2 linked regions of the Homo sapiens genome follow. The protein of the gene in region 1 purifies or fractionates together with the protein of each later gene. This does not show direct contact. Each region holds a gene or a part of one and is shown on either strand. Other genes may lie near its edges.

The links.
Region 2: the proteins of NUP35 (region 1) and ATP23 purify together in Homo sapiens (affinity purification with mass spectrometry; 3 studies listed by BioGRID and IntAct, with this or other methods). This does not show direct contact.

Annotation. Positions count from the first base shown.
Region 1 is NC_000002.12:183,116,507-183,127,442, forward strand, and holds the start of NUP35 (nucleoporin NUP35), read left to right. Parts: upstream 1-7,936; 5' UTR 7,937-7,951; coding exon 7,952-7,991; exon of another isoform or gene 7,992-8,201; intron 8,202-8,286; exon of another isoform or gene 8,287-8,451; intron 8,452-10,936. UniProt on the Homo sapiens protein: Functions as a component of the nuclear pore complex (NPC).
Region 2 is NC_000012.12:57,942,733-57,953,387, reverse strand, and holds part of ATP23 (mitochondrial inner membrane protease ATP23 homolog), read right to left. Parts: intron 7,761-10,655; coding exon 7,715-7,760; intron 6,663-7,714; exon of another isoform or gene 6,628-6,662; coding exon of another isoform or gene 6,557-6,627; intron 6,394-6,556; coding exon 6,312-6,393; intron 2,675-6,311; exon of another isoform or gene 2,504-2,674; intron 1,631-2,503; coding exon 1,493-1,630; intron 1-1,492.

The sequences.
Region 1 (10,936 bases):
AAATTATTTCAAGGCAAATCCTTGATATAGCTCTTCCTAAAATCCATAGCATTTTTTATTCAAAGTTGTCAATTTTGCCTGCTATGAACTTCCTCTTTTAAACATCTGATCAAACTACCTGATAGTTCAAATAGAAGAGCAGGAAATAAAATTACACCTGAAAGTTATGTAAGTTTTAAAGTTAGTTTTTTCACTTCCTGCAGGTGAAAGGAATCATTTAATTGATTTAACGACAACAGGTGAATGAAGTAAACTGATGTTTCTTTTGAAGTTTAGCTACTTCCTTTCTGCCAGTTGTTTACTATAGTAAAATGATCAGAAAAACTTCATGCATTTTCACATGTAATATTTTATTTTTAAATGTATAAAGACATGGCTTTGGTCATGATTGTTTATAGAGGTCAGATAATGCAAATAACAAGAGTAAATTTGTATTTTTTTTTTTTGAGACAGAGTTTCACTCCTGTTGCCCAGGCTGGAGTGCAATTGCATGATCTTGACTCACTGCAACCTCCACCTGCTGGGTTCAAGCGATTCTCTTGCCTCAGCCTCCCGAGTAGCTGGCATTACAGGTGCCTGCCACCACACCCAGCTAATTTTTGTACTTTTTTAGTAGAGACGGGGTTTCAACATGTTGGCCAGGCTGGTCTCGAACTCCTGACCTCCGGTGATCCACCCGCTTCGGCCTCCCAAATTTCTGGGATTACAGGCATGAGCCACTGTGCCCAGCCAAATTTGTATTTTTTTAAAGATGATGTCTGATTTTTTTAAAGACGAGGTCTCACTGTGTGGCCCAGGCTGATGTTAAACTCCTGAGCTCAAGCAATCCTCCTGCTTCAGCCTCCCAAAGTGCTGGGATCACAGGCGTGAGTCACCATGCCCAGCCAGATCTCTACATTGTAAACATCACAAAGGGTCTTTGGAGATCACTTGTCCTTGGTATCCAGGAAGTCATGGTTCCTCTGTGTGCTTTATGTGACATCATTAAGTGAGGGGTAGCCCATGCTACACCAGGTGCTGAAGGCTGAGACGGTGAGAGCATGAGTGATAAGATGCTCTCTCCCCTTGCTCTCTTTCTGAAGATGACAAACTCCATCTTTTTTCTAAAGTCTTACTAAAGGTGGAAATCTTTTTTCTTCACTTCAATTTTAAAAAATTATTTGTTTTTGTTTTATAGAATAGACTGAGAGTGGGCTTTTAAGAGTAACAAGTTGATTTTGTATTTATATACAAACACTGCATATTGTTGGACACTTATAAATAGGTTGATGAATATTCAGTATATATGATAGATATACAAGCAGTTTGGTGTGGATATATTAAACTTATTGAAAAATTTTTAAAATGTGAGATTTTACATATTTCTGACTTTTTCAAAATTTGAGTTTAGAAGAAAGTTGAAATATAGCTCAGAGCTAATTTTCAGGTTGAGCTCTCTGTAGCCCTAGGTACTCCAAACCAAGTATTTCAAGAGTCACCTGGAGTTGCGATACTTGGCAGTTTAGGGGGCAAGAACCCTTGTACTCTTTCTGTTCCTCCCCTCCCAACTGGGCAGTTGTATTTATTAAGCATCTGCACCATCCTTTGTTGAAGAAAGGGCTCCCCACCTAAGTTTGATAATCAATGGTCTACAAAAATAGCACTATGATGAAATCTGATGTCCTGGGAGGAAGGAATTCAGAACAGAAATAGGAAACAGGTTCCATTTGACAGTTTATTTAGTGCGTTCAGAATAGAAGGTAGAGAAAAAAGTATTGTAATCAAGATAATATTCATCTACAGAGGAATATAGTGAACATGCAGTATTTCTAAAATTGCAGTTTAACAAGAAATAAAAAAAGTACAAATGTTTCTCATTCAAGATAATCCACATTTTGAAGATCTCATTTTACACAAAAAAGGGTAATTAGAACTATAAACAGGTCTTCATTTTATAATAAGCACTTAATATAACTAATGTGCAGTTATGATTTTTAAAATTGGCAAACATGCAAAATTGCATTAAATAAGTTATGTCAGATAATTATCCTTTGTTTAATGTTTATTTACAGCTTGTAATTAATGTTTAATCATTTTGTTGTCAGTGGTGGGAATCCAAATTACACAGCACCAAAATATGTTGTCAGCGGCAAATCCATACGGGTCTGCAACAACAATTCTTGTGTCCTCAGGAGAGAATCTGACTAAGGGGCATAAGGCAGAAGAGACCAAGACAAGTTTTAGAGCAGGAGTGAAGGTTTGTTGAAAAACTTGAGAGGAGGAATGAAAAGAAAGTAAAGTACACTTGGAAGAGGGCCAAGCGGGCATCTTGGAGGACAAGTGCCCCATTTGACCTTGGACGTAGGGTTTTACATGTTGGCATACTTCTGGCATCTTGCATCCCTTTTCCCTTGATTCCTCCCTTGGAGTGAGAGGCCTGTTAGCACTTTGGAGGTAAGCATGCGCAATGTGTTTACTGGAGTTGTACGCATGCTCACTGGAAGTGTTCTTCCCTTACCAGCTGAATGTCCTTAGGAGGTCAGATACCAGTTAAACTCCTCCATTTTGCCTCTTAATATGCATGCTTGAGCCCACTTTCCCAACTCCTTGGATCTTATCGGGAAGCTGCCGATCACCAGTTTTAGGTGTTTCTATCTACTGGGAAACTGCCTTTTCCTGGCACTGGCTGCAATCAATTATTTTAGAGAGAGAGTTTAACAACCGCCTGACATTCCTGGTTGGGGTAGGGGGCACCTTCTCTTGCTCTGTTTATGCCTGAATAGCTACCTACTGTAACCATTTATTTTTCAACATACATTTAATTGAAAAATAATGGAAATACAAAATAGGAAAAGTTATGGTCCCTGGCCTCAAGAAAATCCATCTAGTGGGGCTGAAAAGAAAACTTACAAAACAAGTATCTTACAGCAAAGTGAGGTGAAGAGATAAGACGAATCAGAGTTGGCATGGCTGGGGCAGGTTTACATGACAGAAAGAGGCTTGAGCTGCTACTTGAAAGAAACACAAGACTTTGCAAATTGGGGTGGAAAGCTAAGGGATGCTAGGCAGAGGGTTGATGTGAGCAAGAAATACAATGTGAAGAGCTGTTCACAAGAGAATGAGGGTTTTCAACAGGGAATAATGAGAGAATTGATTGGAGCAAAAGGTTAGGATGAGGAGGTGAAGGAAATTTTTCTTTTTGGAGGGGGGTGGGCAGGGAACAGGGTCCAGCTCTGTGGCCTAGGCTGGAGTTCAGTAACAGGATCATGGCTCACTGCAGCATGGAACTCCTGGGGTCAAGTGATCCTCCCGCCTCAGCCTCCTGAGTAGCTGGGACTAAAAGGTACATGCCACCCCACCCTGGGATTTTATTTTTGAAGCCAAGGATCTCAGTTACCCCAGGGTGAAAGTAGGGTAACAATGTGTATTGCCTTTAGGGGTTCCTATGGAAGTCTCTTAAAGAGATGCTTCTACCCTCCCACCATGAGAGATTCTGATTTTTTCCTTCTTTGCTGTCCAGGTGACAATGTATATAGTATAATGAAGGATGTTACTAAATGACATGTGCTGCACACCTGAGTCTTGTGGAGGCTGAAGAAAAGGAGGCTTCTGTAGAAAATAGGAACTCAGTGAGTGTTTTCAGACAGCTGGGTAATGTGTATGAAGAAGAAAGCTTTGGGCCAGGCACGGTGGCTCATGCCTGTAATCCCAACACTTTGGGAGGCCAAATCTGACAGATCACTTGAGGTCAGGAGTTCGAGACCAGCCTGGCCAACATGGCAAAACCCTGTCTCTACTAAAAATACAAAAAGTAGCCGGGTGTGGCGGTGTACACCTGTAATCCCAGCTACTCGGGAGCCTGAGGCAGGAGAATTTCTTGAACACGGGAGGCAGATGTTGCAGTAACCTGAGATCGCTCCACTGTACTCCAGCCTGGATGACAGAGTGAGACTCCGTCTCAAAAAAAAAAAAAAAAAAGAAAGTTTTGGCTACTGGTGTGTTAGGCTTGGTGGGAGAAACTGAAGGCAGGGAGATGTAAGGAGTTGACTGCAATTGTATAGGAATTGAAGAGGCAGAAAGAATATCTCAATGTTTGATGGTAGAGAAGGTGAATGTCAGAAAAAACAAAGTGGAGCAGACACTGTACTAAGAATAACCATTTTTCAAAGTAGGTATTGTTTCTATTTTACAAACAATATAATCTAGAAATCAAATACAAATCCAAGTTATATAGGTTTTAGTGAGAGAGTTGGGCTCTGAATTGAGGTTCGTCTGACTCTAAATTCTGCTAATGCACTATGAATTCAATTTTGAGTTTCTAAGAGATGGAAAGAAAAAGACAAAAGATGAGCTTGCTTTTGAGGTTTGATGTACGGGTAGGTTGTGCAGCAAGCATCTGGAAAAGTGGCATTTGGCTTTAGAGATGTTGGGTATAGATTATTAAAAATTATTTGCACAGGGTGACAATGATAAGGATTCCAAGGGAGACCACTAAGAGTTGAAAAAGAAAGGAGAGAGCAAAGGCTTGAACATCAATAATATTCCCAGGTTAGAAAAAAAATGGGATCAATTATTGAAAAACCAGAAAAGGAGTAGGAAGTTATGAGAAATAGGAAGTGTAGCATCACCAAAAATAAAGAAAACACTTGTACTTAGGAAAAGATTGTCAAAGCTGTTGGATACTGCAGATGTCAAGGAGGCAGGTCTAATTTGGCAATTAGAAAAAAAAAATAGTTGGGGTCAGTAGTTTTATTTCGGAAGAGCATTACACAGGAGCCAATCTGCAATTAATTAAAAATCAAAATAGTAAAGATAGGGAAACAGATAATTTACTAAAATCTATAGACACTTCTTTTGAGATTTTGAAAAAATGAAATGAGAGAGAAATTAGCACATGGTAGGTAGGTGGAGGAGCAAGGCCTAGGGAGGGTTTCAATTCTGGGCTTCTTTATAGCTTGGTAAGGAAAGAGCCTGTTGAAAGGGTAAAAGATTGAAATGCAGGTAAAGAAAAGAAAATAAATGTCTTAATGGAAAAAAGTTTTTAATTTAAAAAGTAAAGAAAATAGGGCTGGGCGCGGTGGCTCACACCTGTAATCCCAGCTCTTTGGGAGGCTGAGGCAGGTGGATCATGAGGTCAGGAGATCGAGACCATCCTGGCCAACATGGTAAAACCCTGTCTGTACTAAAATTCAAAAAAAAAAATGAGTTGGGTGTGGTGGCATGCGCCTGTACTCCCAGCTACTCGGGAGACTGAGGCAGGGGAATCAGTGGAGGTTGCAGTGGAGTGCCAGAGCTGAGATCGTGTCACTGCACTCCAGCCTGGTGACAGAGCGAGACTACATCTCAAAATAAATAAATAAATAAATAAAATAGCAATAACACCTGTCATCAACCACAAAATTGTATAAAATAAGTTAAAGGCCATTCTTTTTATTATTATTATTATTATACTTTAAGTTCTAGGGTACATGTGCACAACGTGCAGGTTTGTTACATATGTATACATGTGTAAAGGCCATTCTTAAATCCTCCAATTTACAAACCCTTTTCTACTTTACTGTTAATAGTTTGGTGCAAATCTTTTTCTTTTTCTTTTCTTTTTTTTTTTTGGACACAGAGTCTCGCTCTGTCGCCAGGCTGGAGTGCAGTGGCATGGTCTTGGCTCACTGCAACCTCCACCTCCTGGGTTCAAGCGATTCTCCTGCCTCAGCCTCCCAAGTAGCTGGGATTACAGGCATGTGCCACCATGCCCGGATAATTTTTGTATTTTTTAGTAGAGATGGGGTTTCACCATGTTGGCCAGGCTGGTCTGGAACTCCTGACCTCGTGATCCGCCCGCCTTGGCCTCCCAAAGTGCTGGGATTACAGGCATGAGCCACCATGCCCGGCTGGTGCAAATCTTTTTCAACATCTTCTTTTATTTAAAGAAGTATCACTCTTTTCTCTTTCTCTGCATCTGTTCCTAAATAAACCCGTTATTAAATAAAAATGGTGCCGTATATGCATGCATGTTTTCAAATTACTTTTTTTCATTATATCTATCACAGAGGTCTTTCTAGGTTAATATTTACACTCATATCAAATCCATCTAATTCATTTTAGTTGTTGTATAGTGTTCTTTTGTTTGGCTAGATCATAATTTGTATAGAAATTTCTTTTTTATTTTGTAGAGAAGTGGGGTCTCACTATCTCAAACTCCTGGACTCAAGTGATCAACCCCTCAGCCTCCCAAGGTGCTGGGATTGCAGGTGTGAGCCACCACATCTAGCCTCAATGTGTGTAGAAATTTATACATTGATATACCTTTCTTGGTAGCTTAATTCTAAAAAGTGGATTGCCCTGTGTTGTGGGCTGACTACTCCCCAAAGATATCCATACACTAAGCTTTAGAATCTGTGAATGTTACCTTATATGGCAAAAGGTATTTTGAAGATGTGATTATTAACTTAATCACCTCTACTGAATATTGAAATAGTAAGATTATCCTGGATTACCTGGGTGGGTCCTAAATGTCATCACAAGGCTATGTGATGGCAGAAGCTGAACAAAGCAGTGTCAGACAGACCAAAGATGCTACATCGTTGGCTTTGAAAAAGCAGGAAGGTGGCACAAGCTAAGAAATATAAGTGGCTTCTAGAAGCTTGAAAAAGCAAGGTAATAGATTCTCCCCTGGAGCCTCCAGAAGAAAATAGTCCTTCTGGTACTTTGATTTTAGCCCTACAATACTCATTTTGGATTTTTGGCCTCCAGAACTGTAAGAGATACATTTGTGCTGGTTTAGTTAACCGAGCTTGTGGTACTCCAATGTGACTTTATCTGAACTTTATTACATCTGCAAAGACCCGATTTCCAAATAAGGTCATATTCATAAGTATGAGGGTTAGGACTTGAACATAAATTTTTGAGGGACACAATTCAATTCACACACCCATTTTCAAAAAGTCAATTCGATCTGTGAGTGGTTTTAAAATTTGATTTCTGTGAACCTACCATTTAATTCTGGAATTGTTACTGCCTCATTCCAAAGACAAAATTCTTCCTCCATTTGAGATTTTAGGAAGTCCTAGAAGAAATAGCTGAGCATGGGTGGATATTTTGGAAATAATCCTCATGGTATGGAGCAGAGAACGTCCCCAGTTATACATATGTAGCACATTATTTTATAAAGTTAGTATTTGAGCAAAACTAAACAATATATTTTTACACACACATATGCAGAATATGTGTATGTGATTTACGTATGACTATGCCCTAAAGAAAAGCAGCAAAGTGAGGGGACGTGGACGGCAGGGATGGCACATGCAGAAGCACGCAAGATTCCGCGGTGTGGAGGGTTCGTGGGTGCGTATAATTATCTTCCATTATTTACATGTGTACTTTATGCGTTCGTTAGCTATATTTTTGTATGTTTTAATATGCAACAAAACGGCGTATGAGTTACGCTTTAATGTAAAATTGTCTACATAACACAAAATTTAAAAGAAATGGCATACGGATAGTAGAAAACATGCTTTGAGGAAAAAGCGTCATGTACTAAGTCCAGAAATCGACATTGCAAAGAGGCACCAACTGTTTTCATCAAGCTGACTTTTCCAGGTGCTACTCAGAAAAGCTGACCGATGATAGAGCACTGGGTCAACTCACGCTAATTATGAAACCGTGAGTAAAATAATCTGTGCTTCTATGTAACTTAAGTACCCACAAATCAGGAAGCATTCCCGGATGAAAAGCATTCACAGAACCATACGCTGGTTCGCCACCTTCCCGGTGCAAAAACCCTTTCCTCGGAAATTCTCAGCGCAAAGACTTTGCCCTATTCCAAAATGGCTCCGGCGCCTACAACTTAAGCATAGCGCAGGTCCGGAAGTTACGCAACCCCATAAGGTAGCACGCCGTTACCCGTGGGGAGCGTTTCCGCCATTTTTGAAAATTAATTGGGAAGGTACTGGTTTTAAGTGTAGTTGCCGACGCAATGGCAGCCTTTGCAGTGGAACCTCAGGGGCCCGCGTTAGGTGAGTGAAATATTGCTTTTCCTTGCTGGCACTGCCATCCATGCTCTGGGCCTGGAGGCGGGCAAGACTGAAAGGCAGTCGTCAGGCTCTCGTCTGCTGGTTTCAGTCGCGGAGAGGGAATCCTTGGGTGCCCCCAAGTTCATAGTCGGTCCCCTACTCGACGCGTCGCCTCCATACTGCTACAAAGGTGGCGCCGGGAAGCTGAGGGCCCTGGGAGGGTGAAGAAAAGGCCGTCTGGCGGTGACTGAGCTGTGTTTGTGCCCCCACACGCCAGCCACGTTAGACTGGCCCATACCTTAACCTCCTTCTGATACCCGAGACGCGATGCTGGTTGCTGGATTCCCAGCTGGTTGCTGGTCCCCAGAAGCATCCCTGGGAGGAACTGACCGCGGTACACGTGGGTGGGCGGTGCCCTGAAGTGTGTGGGTGCAGTCCACTGCTTCTTGATCACCGGTGCTTCCAGTTCCTGTTTTGACTCCTCTCTCCCGGGCTTTGCCAAAGGAATCTTGTTATTAATGGAAGCTTGAATCGTGCAACATTTAATCAACCGTGTGGTTGGTAATCATTGAGATATTGACCTTAACAGCAAGCTAGGAGTTCGCACGATATTTCCCGCCTTTATTTGGGGAAAGTGACTCTTAAGTATTGTAGGAGGTATTTTTCTCTAGTAAGTCACGATCTGAATTTTTTTAAAGATTCATTCCCATTATTCATTGCGGAGCCTCGTTGAAATATGTCGTCTTTGAAAAAAATCTACCACTTTAACAGCACGCGGATTTCTTTTTTTCCTGCTGAGTTTTGCGACTTGTGAGAATCGTCGAAAATTTTAGAACGGAAAATAAACCGTCTTACTGTCATAGAGACTTACCTGAAAAGTTAGGTTATAACTTTCTGAGCTTGGAAAAGAGAGCAAATGTAATATATATGGTGTGGAAAGAGTCTTTAGATTTGAAGGGTATGTAATGCTTGCCATGTTTGGTGTAAAATAAGTTCTTTTTGAGAATAGAGTAACTTGAACTACTTTAGTCTGTCATAAAAAAACTAAATGCATAATGTCAATAATGCAGATACTCTGCATTAAAATTTATATATAGATGTCGTCTTGGTATTTATTTTTAATGTATTTTAGAGATCAAAAACTCTTCATTTCCAGTTCCAAATTTTTCTATTCAACAAAAACATTTTGGAGTGCATATTTATTGGGGTTACAAATGTGAGTAAACCAATCCCTGTATATTGCCTTGCCAGAAATCTGACATTAGCCAGTATTAATGTTTAAGTCCACATTTTGCAGATATTCCAGGTGCCCACTGGTGTAGTAAAACTAAGGGTTGACTTCAACAAACTGCTAGCTGAGTACGTATCTTTTGGGAGCACAGAATATGAAATGGAATTGAGGACATGCAGCATCTTTTCCTTAAGTTTGCTTTAAGTGAAATTTAGCCTGAGGGGTGGTTGGTGACAGTCCTGATTAAGAGCCCATTGTGCCCTCCTTCCTGTCTGGTGCTTTCTTTTTTCTTTTCCTTCCTTCTTCCCTCTCTCCCTCCCTCCCTTCCTCTTTTTTGACACAGCCGTGTCACCTGGGCTGGAGTGCAGTCGTGCAGTCTCAGCTCACTGCAACCTCCCCCTCCGGGCTCAAGCAATCCTCCCACCTCAGCCTCCCAGGGGCTGGGACCACAGTGTGCCGCCACTCCCAGCTACTTATTGTATTTTTGGTAGAGACAAGGTTTCGCCATTTTGTCCAGACTGGTCTCGAACTGAGCTCGAGCGATCCACCTGCCTCGGCCTCCCAAAATCCTGGGATTAGAGGCTTGCGCCTTCTACTGTGTCTGTATGTATCCAGATACATCAGAACTTTTCTTAAGCCAATTCTTACTTTATTTTGCTATAATTTTTTTTTCTTTTAGGGAGGGGGAGTGAATGTAGTGAATGTTACCAAAAACTTTGCGTTTAATATGGTATTCTGAATATCTGTTAAGAATATGCTTTTGTTTAGACTTTTGGTTTGATTTTAGTGGATCTTCTTACGAAATATTTCTACAGTGCCATGTAACATAGTAACTAGCACTTTATAAAATAATTACAATGTAATTAGAGTTTTTCACACCTTGTTTTAGCATTTGCTTTATCCATTTATTGAATTTGTTTTTTTTTTTGTCTTTTATACACTTGTATTGTTAATATCTAGGCCTAATATAATGGGAAATAAGAGGAAGACTAAATAGTTGGCAGCTTTCGGATATTAAGAAACAGATTGTTAAGGCCATCTAGAAGTTAAGTAATAGTTAATAAAAAACCATACAAATAACATAGCAAACATTTGACCCTTCTGAGTGCAATGAGTCACACTCAGGCTTGTCACCTAGTTGAAAATTATTTTCATAAGCAGAGATTGCAAATTCTACATTTATACTTTACTCAGTTTTTGCTATTATAAAATATTTGTAGAAAATAATAATTCGTATTTATTGAGCACCTGTGTATCAGGTACCAGGTCAAGCTATACTTGCTATAATTCTAACAAAAGCTCTGTTAGTGGATGCTAGCTATGCTTATTCCCTTTTACTGAGAGAACTTGAACCCACATCTTTGACTCCATAGCCCATTGTTTTCCTTATTCTGCTATTTTGCTCTGAAATTAGAATTATATAGCTCACTCATCTTCATAAGGGAAATAATATCTACTCTATAGATTGTGAGGATTTATTTTGTATCAATTGTGAGGTTTCAGTTCTCTAAGTTGGCTTTATATTAGGGGGATATTTAATGATGATTCTTTAATTTTTTTTTTTTTTTAAATAAAAAAGATGAGATCTCAGTGTGTTGCCCAGGCTGGTCTTGAACTCCTGAGCTCAAGTGATCCTCCTGCCTTGGCCTCCCAAAGTGCTAGGATTGCAGGCGTGAGTCACCATGCCCAGCTGTGATTATTCTTGACTTAAACTAAT
Region 2 (10,655 bases), on another chromosome or scaffold:
GAGATGGGGAAAAGTTCAATCGCCTACCAAAGGAAATTTTCTAAACTTTATGCGTAGCTTTACTGACAGAACTAATTTCTTTTGGAACCAAAAGTCAGAGAGCTAGACCTCAGAGTTAAACTACACACTCTACAAGATACAAATACTTGTAGAAATTGCCAAAAGTACTTCAAGAAAGCATTCTTGAAATAAACTGAGTTTCAATGTGACCTTAAAACTGAATGCATTAATATCTGAGACACTTTGAGAATATGCCCCTCCCAACCCTTGCCCGAATCTCCCTTGGAGCTTCCCTCAAACCTATATAAGTTCATGACCTTCCTCTAGGGACTTGATTGTCCTATGAAAAATGAAGCAATACAAAACACAAAGAATCAAGAACATTCCAAACTGGTCACGCTATGAGCATGACAGCCTGAAATTAGGACATATTTTCAGATTTACTATACTTCAATGAATGAAAAAGTCTTAGAACTACCCACATAGATTCTACAGGCAGCTTGACCACATTTTTGCTAATTCATTGCTAACAGAATGGCCCACTTCTTGTTCCTTCTTCAATATTATGGCCTCATTCCTCTGAGGAGCTCAAAGTACTTAACACACTTTAACTAGCTAAAAGGCATTAATTCTCACAGTACCCAAGAAAGAGACCTATTTAAAAATTCAGGTTTCAGTCTATTCTCCAAATAATTGGAATTATAATTAGATGCAGGGGGCTACATATTAATTTCAAGAGAAAGGGAAATAATCGAAGTTATATAGTATAGGCTTGAGATTTAGATTATTTTAATTAACTCTTCAATTAATGACATCCAAGTATATGCATATGCAGAATACGCTCTCTCTAGGAGCATATTCCAAGAGCAATCCAACGTGCTTAGTAATAAATATCTTTTTATGTTGTATTTTTGAAAAGAGCATGTTTTACTCTAGGGCAAGCAAGGAGCTCTATGGAAGGCAGCTGGGCAAGCTAGTTAAAAACACTAGTTGTAATCCTGCCTCTACCACTTACTAACTTTGGAATCTAAACAACTGTCTCACTTTCCACATATGTAAAACAGGGACAATAATAGTATAATATCTATCTCAGTAGGTTATTGTGAAGATTAAATAAGAATCTGTGCAAACAGAACAGTGTTTGGAACACAGCCCTCAGTAAATTTTAATTATTTTTTTATTTTTATTTTTATTATTAATGTCTCCTATGGAATACATTATAAAATATATTCCATAGGAAAAAATTAATAGCTTATTAAAGTCAGTCATCACTATTACTAGGACTTACAGGATATAGTTAAGAGAATTCTAAAAATACACTTTAAATTTCTCTAACTGTATATCAAAAATGGTATTCAATGTTAGTTATAAACCGAAATTCAAGACTAAGGTAGAACTATGACAGTAAGAAAAGGAATACATTTAAATAAATTACACTTGAATAAAATATTCAAGCATAGAGTATTCTGGAGAAAAATACAATAAAACTCACCTCTGAGCACGCCAAATGTCTGATGTTGGTGAACCAGTCGACATGGGCACGACAATGATCAAATGCATGAATAAGCTCGTGTGTGACCACTCTGTTCATATGGGCCTGATTATGGATATTATTCTGGCACAAAACTATCTAGGAGACACCAAAATAAAAGAAGTTCAGTGATTCTAAAATCTCCTTCCATAGACTCGATCTTCTCTCCCACATGACCTCACCTCTCCCCCACAAGCTCACCTGCCTGGAATATCTCTACCCACTCTTCTTCATTGGCCACACATCTACCCATGGGACAAGTCCTAGTCCTAAGTGTACATGCTCCAATTGCCTCGCCCAGTGACTAACTTCTCCCTTCTCCTCTCTCTGGACTACAGCAGTACTTAGATTAAGGACACGTATTCACACACCATCCTTACTGGGCTGATCGTACTAGTCTGTCTCGGACTCCACAGCATTATGGTTAAGAGAGTGGGCTTTGGAATGAAGCACACAGATTCAAATTCCAGCTCCACCCCTTACTAACTCAGTGACCTTAGGCAAGTTTCTTAATCTCTCTGTACCTCAATTTCCTCAACTATAAAAAGGAGATAATTAGGGTAGCTACCTCATAGAACTGTGAGAATTAAATGAGAATATATGTAAAATACTTCTTATCAAGTTTCTGAATGAGCATTGAATGAAAAAGGAATGACCACCACTGTCCTCATTTTACTAGAATGAGGGCAAATGCCAGGGAAAACTCATCAGAAAGACCTTCAGAAAGAAGTGCAAAACACAACAGCACACTGAGCAGGACCCTATAAGAATAAGAAAGACACAAGGGATCCTAATAGTAATAGCTGCCATTGATTGTGTACTACTGCCAGACACTGGGATATGTGCCAGATATTTATATACATTCATTCAACATCCATTGATTCAACTAATACTTATTGAGACCTAATAATAGATTATAATCTACTGATGGAGATAGAAACTAACCAAATATTTACCAAAATGTTTACATACATGCAATGACAGTTGTCATGAAGAAAAACCCAGGTTGTCATGAGCATATACAATGAGGTTGGGTGCAGTGGCTCATGCCTATAATCCCAGTACTTTGAGAGGCTGAGGCAGGCAGATTCCTTGAGCCCAGGAGTTCGGGACCAGCCTGGGCAACAGAGCAAAACCCCATCTCTATAAAAAAATAAAATAAAAATTAGCCAGGCATGGTGGCACATGCCTATAGTCCCAGCTACTTGGAAGGCTGAGGTAGGAGGATCACTTGAGCCCAGGAGGTTGGTGCTGCAGTGAGCCAGGAACACGCCACTGAACTCCAGCCTGGGCAAGAAAGGGAGACCCTGTGTCAAAAAAAAAAAAAAGAAAAAGAAAGAATGCCTGACCTACTCTGGAGGTGGGGGAAGGTTTCTCTGTGGAAGGAATGGTTAAACTGGTATCTAATGGAGGAATAGAAGTGAAATTTGAGGTGTGGAGGGGAAGGGAGTATTCTAGGCAGAGAGAAAAACCTATGCAAAGCGTAGAGGGAGGGTTGACGGAAGAAAATGCTTGAGAAGCTAAAAGGAGAGCCCTAGAGTTGAAGCACAGCGGTGGGGGTGGTAGGCAACAGATACGGCTGGTGAGGTCGGGGGGCCAAATCCCTGAAGACCTTGTCTTTACCCTAAGAGCAATGGGAAGCTCTCAGGATAAAGGGAATGTTGAAACAGAAGACTGCTTTTGTTTTATTTTGCTTTTATCCTTTTAACTATAGTTGGAAGAATAGGCAGGAGATGGCCAAAACTGGATGCAGAGAAATTAGCTGAAGGCTAATATTCTAGGCAAGAGAGAACAGCACTTCAGCTAGAATGGTGGTGGAAGCCAAAAGAGTTATTTAGGAGGTAAATTAGACAAAATATGTTGATAGAATACGGGGAAGGAATCAGGGGTATCAAAGATGATCCATAAATTTCTGGCTTGGCTAATAGGGTCGATGGTAGCACCATCCACTGAGATATGCAAAACTAAAAGACTGGGTTGAGTGGGGAGATGGGGGATGGTAAAAATCATGAATTTGGACTTACACATTTCAAGTCTGAAGTGTCCTTAAGACCCTTAAGTAGGTGGGGAGCAGTGGCTCTCACTTGTAATCCCAGCACTTTGGGAGGCTGAAATGGAAGGATCATTTGAGGCCAGGAGTTTAAGACCAGCCTGGGCAACATAGTGAGACCTCATCTCTACAAAAAATTTTAAAAGTTAGCTGGGTCCAGTGATGCACTCCTGTAGTCCCAACTACTCAGGAGGCTGAGATGGGAGGATTGCTTGAGCCCAGGAGTTCAAGGCTGTAGTGAGCCATGATTGCGCCACTGCACTCCAGCCTAGGCGACAGAGCAAGACCCTGTCCCAAAAAAACTTTTTTTCCTTAAAAATAAAAATAAATAAATAAATAAAAAGATGCTCAAGTAGAGGTGTTAAATGGGCACTTGGATATATGGAATGTGGAGTTCTTAAAAGTGAGCTTTGACCCCAGAAAATTGATGAGACCTCCTTGGCAGAGTAAGAAAAGAAGGGGCTCTATGACCAAGGATTGAGGGACTTTGACATTTAAATGCTAGTAGAGGAAGGTAAGCTAGCAAAGGAGCAACCAGAAGAGTGCTGTATACTAGAAACCAAAGAAAGTGTTTGGCATTAACAGCTGAAGTCAAGTGTATACAAACTATATGACCCAGTAATTCTGCTCTTGAGCATATACCTTAGAGAAACTCTTGCACATGTGCACCAGTAGCGAAGGTCAAAAATATTCATAGCAGCATTGTTCATAATAACAAAGTTGGAAACAATCAATATTAGAGTAAACTATAGTATAAACACACAACGGAATAAATACCATATAACAGGGAAACGAAATAAACCAGAGAGGTACACACAACAACAAGAAAGAATCTCACAAATGCTGAAGGTGGAAAGTAATTGGAGACTATATACTGTACAATTTCATAATACTACAAAATGCTACATAAAATTCAAAGTATAACATGTATAAAGCTCAAAAGCAGGCAACTAAATAACACACTGTTGGATTGTATATGTAGATGGTAAAGCCATTCAGAAAAGCAGGGAATGGTTACCACAAAAGTCAGGATAAGGAAGGGAAAAGGACCTGATTCAAGAGGACCACGAAGGCTTCTGAAGTCCTAGTAATGTTCTTTTTCTCTAGTCTGGGTGGTGGTTACATAGGTGTGCACTTTATTATTACTGAAAGTGTACATATAGATGTTTTACTCTTCTGTATGAATGAGATACTTCATAATAAAAATTTTCATTTAAAAAAATAGGCCAGGCACAGTGGCTCACGCCTGTAATCCTAGCAGTTTGGGAGGCCAAGATGGGTGGATCACCTGAGGTCAGGGGTTCAAGACCAGCCTGGCCAATATGGTGAAACCCTGACTCTACTAAAAATACAAAAATTAGCTGGGCATGGTGGCACATGCCTGCAATCCCAGCTACTCAGGAGGCTGAGGCAGGAGAATCACTTGAACCCAGGAGGCAGAGGTTGCAGTGAGCCCATATTGCACCACTGCATTCCAGCCTGGGTGACAGAGTAAGACTCTGTCTCAAAAATAATAATAATTTAAAAAATAATAATAAAATAAAAGGAGAGGGTGCCCAACTGTGTTCAACACTGCTGAGAATTAGGATGAAAGTTCAAGATGTGCACTCTGTTTAACCCTGGGGGGACCGAGAAGGGAGTGAACTTATCCAGAGCCATTTTGAGAGCTATAGGTATTGTGATTACCAGTTTACAAATGAGGAAACTGAGAAGAAGAAAAATAACTTGCCCAAGCCCCACAGATAATAAGCAAGGAAACTAGGATTTGAACTCAAGTCTGACTCCAAAATCTAGACTTCTCATCCTTGTTCTATATTGCCACTTCACATGATTACTGTAAAAATGCTATAAATAACCTAAATACATACAAAATTATCCAGCAGGAAACAGTTAAGTGTAGTTAAGTATGAATTATACATTCAAGTGGGAAACAGTTACTTATAACACCATCATTTACCCTGATCACATGACATTATCTACCACCTCCAAGACTCTGTCGAAACTCTCTGATGACTTAAAACTAATAATAAAATTTATTGAATGCTTACTATGGGCCAGGCACTAAGATAAGCAACTCTATAAGAGATATCTCATTTAATTCTCATAATCATTCCATAAAATAGATACAATCGTTGCCCAAATTGTACAGATTAGAAAACTCCCCTAATAAAAAATTTTCACAGGCAGTATCAATTCTCACCACGTAAAGGTAAAAACCCTTTAATTTAGCATTCAAAACCTCCCACCATAGGGCTTACATTTCCTTCCAATCCTATTTTCCCTCATTCCCCACATGTTCCTGCCCTCCAGATAAACTAGACAATATGCCATTCCCTACACATGCCATGCAGTTTCGTAGCATGCACTTTTGCTCATGCTGCCCCTGCTCTGTCCCTGCTCTGCCCCTAAGGAGGCTTTATATCCTCTAGTCGAATCTGTTGGCATCTTTCAATCGATCACATCACTGTTCCATTGTGGTAACCAAGCCCACCTAAAATGGTTTAGCTTGCCTCATTTTATAATTATCTGTGTTCATGTCTTATCTTTCCTGTAAGGCTGTAAACTCCTTAAGAGATTTTAAGAGTAAACTCCTTAGAGTAAGGATAACTAATTCACTTTTTTAGTCCTACATAAAGTCTACCAAACAGAATGCCGAGCATGTGGAAGATGCTCAAAAAATATAAAGAGAGAGGATTAAAGGGAAGGAAACAATTTGGCAATAATGCCTACCTGAGATGTTGAAGCATCAAAACCTCCACTGACATTTCCATTACAGTCTTCGCAAGAAAAGTGTCTATCTTTGTTAACAGCACTAAAAGGCAAGAAAAGGAGACAATGTCCAGAAACAGTGTGTATGTGGCAAACAGCCCTGGGCCAGGGCTCAGGAGACCCTCCACCATATAGTAAATCCCCTCTACTACTAACACATAGGAAATCTTGGGAAAGAAACAACATCTTCAGGACTGTTATCTCACCTGTAAAATAAGGAGGTTGTACACAAAATCCATTCTAGTTCAAATTCTATAGATATGATTCCATAAAACATTTGTCCCCCAGGCGCGGTGGCTCACGCCTGTAATCCCAGCACTTTGGGAGGCCGAGGCAGGTGGATCACCTGAGGTCGGGAGTTCAAGACCAGCCTGACCAACATGGAGAACCCCCCATCTCTACTAAAAATACAAAATTAGCCGGGTGGTGGTGGGCGCCTATAATCCCAGCTACTCAGGAGGCTGAGGCAGGAGAATCTCTTGAACCCGGGAGGCGGAGGTTGCGGTGAGCCGAGATCGTGCCACTGCATTCCAGCCTGGGCAAAAAAAAAGAGCAAAACTACGTCTCAAAAAAAAAAAAAAAAAAAAAAAATTTGTTCAACTGATTATGGCCATATTGCAAGTATGCTGGAGTTCCTGCCCTTGGGCCAGAATGTTAAGAAGTGGATGTCAGAAGTCACTTCCTTTAAACCCCTCAAAGTTATACAACATCTGCAAGGTTCCTACATAACAAGCTGAGATTTCTTTTCCATTAAAAACAGTGCTCAGGCTGGTGTAGCAGAAAGGCCAGGCTTGGTAATTACTTACAAGAAAATTTTGAGTACTGTCTTTATTAATCACCCAAGGTGAATGGTAAGAACTAGAAAATGAGCTGGGCTGGCGCAGTGGCTCACACCTGTAATCCCAGCACTTTGGGAGGCCGAGGTGGGTGGATCACTTGAGGACAGGAGTTCGAGACCAGTCTGGTCAACATGCTAAGACCCCATTTCTACTAAAAATACAAAAATTAGCCGGGCATGGTGGCGTGCGCCTGTAAACCCAGCTACTTGGGAGACTGAGGGAGAAGAATTGCTTGAACCTGGGAGACGGAGGTTGCACTGAGCCGAGACAGCACCAACGCACTCCCACCTGGACAACAAGAGCGAGACTCTATCCCCAAAAAAAAAAAAAAACATGAGTTAGGGCAGAAAATGTCCAAAGAGAACAAGGCCAGCCCGGAGACAATGCAGCCAATTACCTCTATTTACCCTATGGAAAAGACTTTGTGACCTCAGAGAAATCTTAAGCAGTTCTCTTAAGAAGAGAACTTGGTTTTTGTTTTCAGCAGCCAGACCTCAGAGCAGCACTTCAAAAAGAGTTACTTACCAACCTGAGTGTTTCATAGCATCAAGCAGAAGTTTGACATATGGATCTAAAAAAGATATTGATTTAATTAAGTAATTGGAAAAGTAGCACCAATTAAACTACCCAAATAGCAGTGTAAGATATTATCAAAAAGTAACTCACAGGCCAGATGCAGTGGCTCATGCCTGTAATCCCAGCACTTTAGGAGGTTGAGGCGGGTGGATCATTTGAGGCCAGGAGTTCAAGCCCAGCCTGACCAACATGGCAAACCCCGTCTCTACTAAAAATACAAAAATTAGCTGGGCATGGTGGCACACGCCTGTAGTCCCAGCTACTTGGGAAGCTGAGGCATGAGAATCACTTGAACCCAGGAGACAGACATTACAGTGAGCTGAGATCACACCACTGCACTCCAGCCTGGACGATAGAGTGACTCTGTCTCAAAAAAAAAGTAATGTTATCTTAAAATTGGTAAAAATTGACATGAGAGGCCAAGCTTAAATCAACATCAAAGCAAGTTTGTACTGAAATAAAACACTAATACAAATACCAAGATGGTACTACTAAGCATCTTAGACAATATCAACTATGCTTTTAAAGTTCATTTTTAGTTAAATGATCAAACACGTTGTATTACGGTATATACCAAAAGACTGAGGGAATCTAGGGCCACATTCTTAGAAGTGAACAACAGCACAGTACCTAGATTTGAGGAAGCCAGTAGCCACACTGTTCTGTCCTGATCAGATCATACCGGCAATACCATGTCCCATGCTGAGTACTACCACCTTCTAAATTGGACCTGCCACTGAAGCTCTTCCACAGGGGATGGTGACTAGGGTACTACAGACTATTTCCAGTAAGAAGCAAGAAAGGATTTGGGGGGTTGGAAAGGAGACAGAAGACTTAACTAGGACCACACTACTTTCAAGTATTGAAGGGGTGCCATGTGGGACTAGATTCAGTTAATATTTCTTCAAAGGGCAGAACAAGGACCAAAGTATGGAAGTTACATGTGGCAGATTTCAGCTCAGTATGAGAAAGGATTTTTCTCCAACAATTAAAGCTGGTGAAACAATAGACAGTAGATTGAAAGAGCCTCAAGGAACAGGTAACTGTATTCCAGGAGAGGTCTGTAGAGTATCTGGCCAGCAATAGCACAGAGGTTTCCCTGTAAGGGGACGGGGAGGCCTAGACGATTCCTGAGGGCCCTTCCACATCTAAGACTCTATGGGCCCGTGACTACTACAGGAAAGTACAAGGAGCCCAAATGCCTCTGATATTAACTTTTCACATAGGCATCTTGTCTGAGAATATAAATGCACAGCCAATTATATGATGTAACCCAAAAAAAGTGAAAAAGAAACTAAGGTTTAAAAAAAATGTTGAAGGCAAAAATAGGTGAGAAAAAGAAATGTGAGATGAGAAAGTCAGGTATAGGTTACTGCTTTACCAACCTGCCCCTTGCAAGAGTGTTCACAGTAGAATAATTATTGTTAACAATACGTATTATTGAGTGAATACCAGGTAGCAGGCACCATATTAAGCACATTATTATTCATGCAACTAGGAGAATTTTACAAAATTAAAACAGTTTCAAAAGTCTGTAGTCCTTGTACTTAAAAAAAAAAAAAACCATGGTTTAGTACTTCAAAAAGGACCTGCAGCAATATTTAGAATAAAATTGCTTTGGTGAAAAAAAAAAAAAAAAAAGAGACTCCCATGAGGTCTGGTTTCCACCACCACGCCCCACCCAGGGATAGCATTTTAAAGCTGCAGGTTGACACTTTAATACCACCAAAAGACCCTCCCAGCCACCCTGCCCTTGGAAGATCAAGGTCCATTGATTCCTACTGGGGCTCATGTTCAGCACCCCACCTTCCTCACATCCTATCTATTTCCACTCTTCCTCCACTGTGTGGCCCTTCCACTGTAAAAACAGCTACCATTTATTCAGCTCAGCTCCTGATATGCTGGTACTTTACATTCATAAAATCAGTACTTTTTTTTTTTTTAGACAGGGTCTCGCTCTGTTGCCCAGGCTGGAGTGCAGTGATGCAATAACAGCTCACTGCAGCCTCAGCCTCCTGGGTTCAAGCAAATCTCCTGCCTCAGCCTCCTAAATAGTTGGGACTGCAGGCATGAGCCACCACATCCAGCTAATTTTTTTTATTTTTTGTAGAGACAGGGTCTCCCTATATTACCCAGGCTGGTCTTAAACATCTGAGCTCAAGCAATCCCCCTGCCTTGGCTCCCCAAAGTGCTGAGATTACAGGCATGAGCCACCGTACCCAGCCCCATAAAATCTATTCTTCACAACAACCCTAAAAAAGGTATTTTCCCCTTCTCTTTTTTTACAATAAGGATAGTGAGGATCAGAGAAGTTAAGTCACCTTCCACACCTGAGGAAAGGGATCCGCATTTGAACCCACATCTAACTCTGCAACCCATACTCTTTCCACTCTATTCCACTTTGAAGCACCTTCAAGGCAGGGTGCTAACTCATCTTTCTACTTCCCCCACCAGAACCTGGGAGGCACTCAATACATATTTGTACAGTAAATACAATATCATCATTCTCTCCCCTTTTACCCTCAACTCCCCTTCCTCCTCCTACCTCCCTGAGTCTCTACAAGCAGGTAATCCCAAGAAGGTTGGAAAATCTTTCGGTGGTTGACTTTTGAACTGTGACTGACTAGCTATGAAATAGTAACCTTGCTTTGGGACAAGTATGTTTAAGACTAATTTTCTGAATGTATCTGAAAGTAAACTTAAGAAGTCTATGTCAATGTAAAGGAATTAAGAAATCTTCTCTAGTGCAATGTCTCTGGGACGGGAGAGAAATTTGTCAATGGGCAGTTGTGTCCCTGTTTAACCCACAGCAGTTCTTAACCTTTGTGGGGTCGTTGGCCTCTTTGAGAATATGATGAAGCTATTAACTCTCTCCCCCGACCAAAAAAAA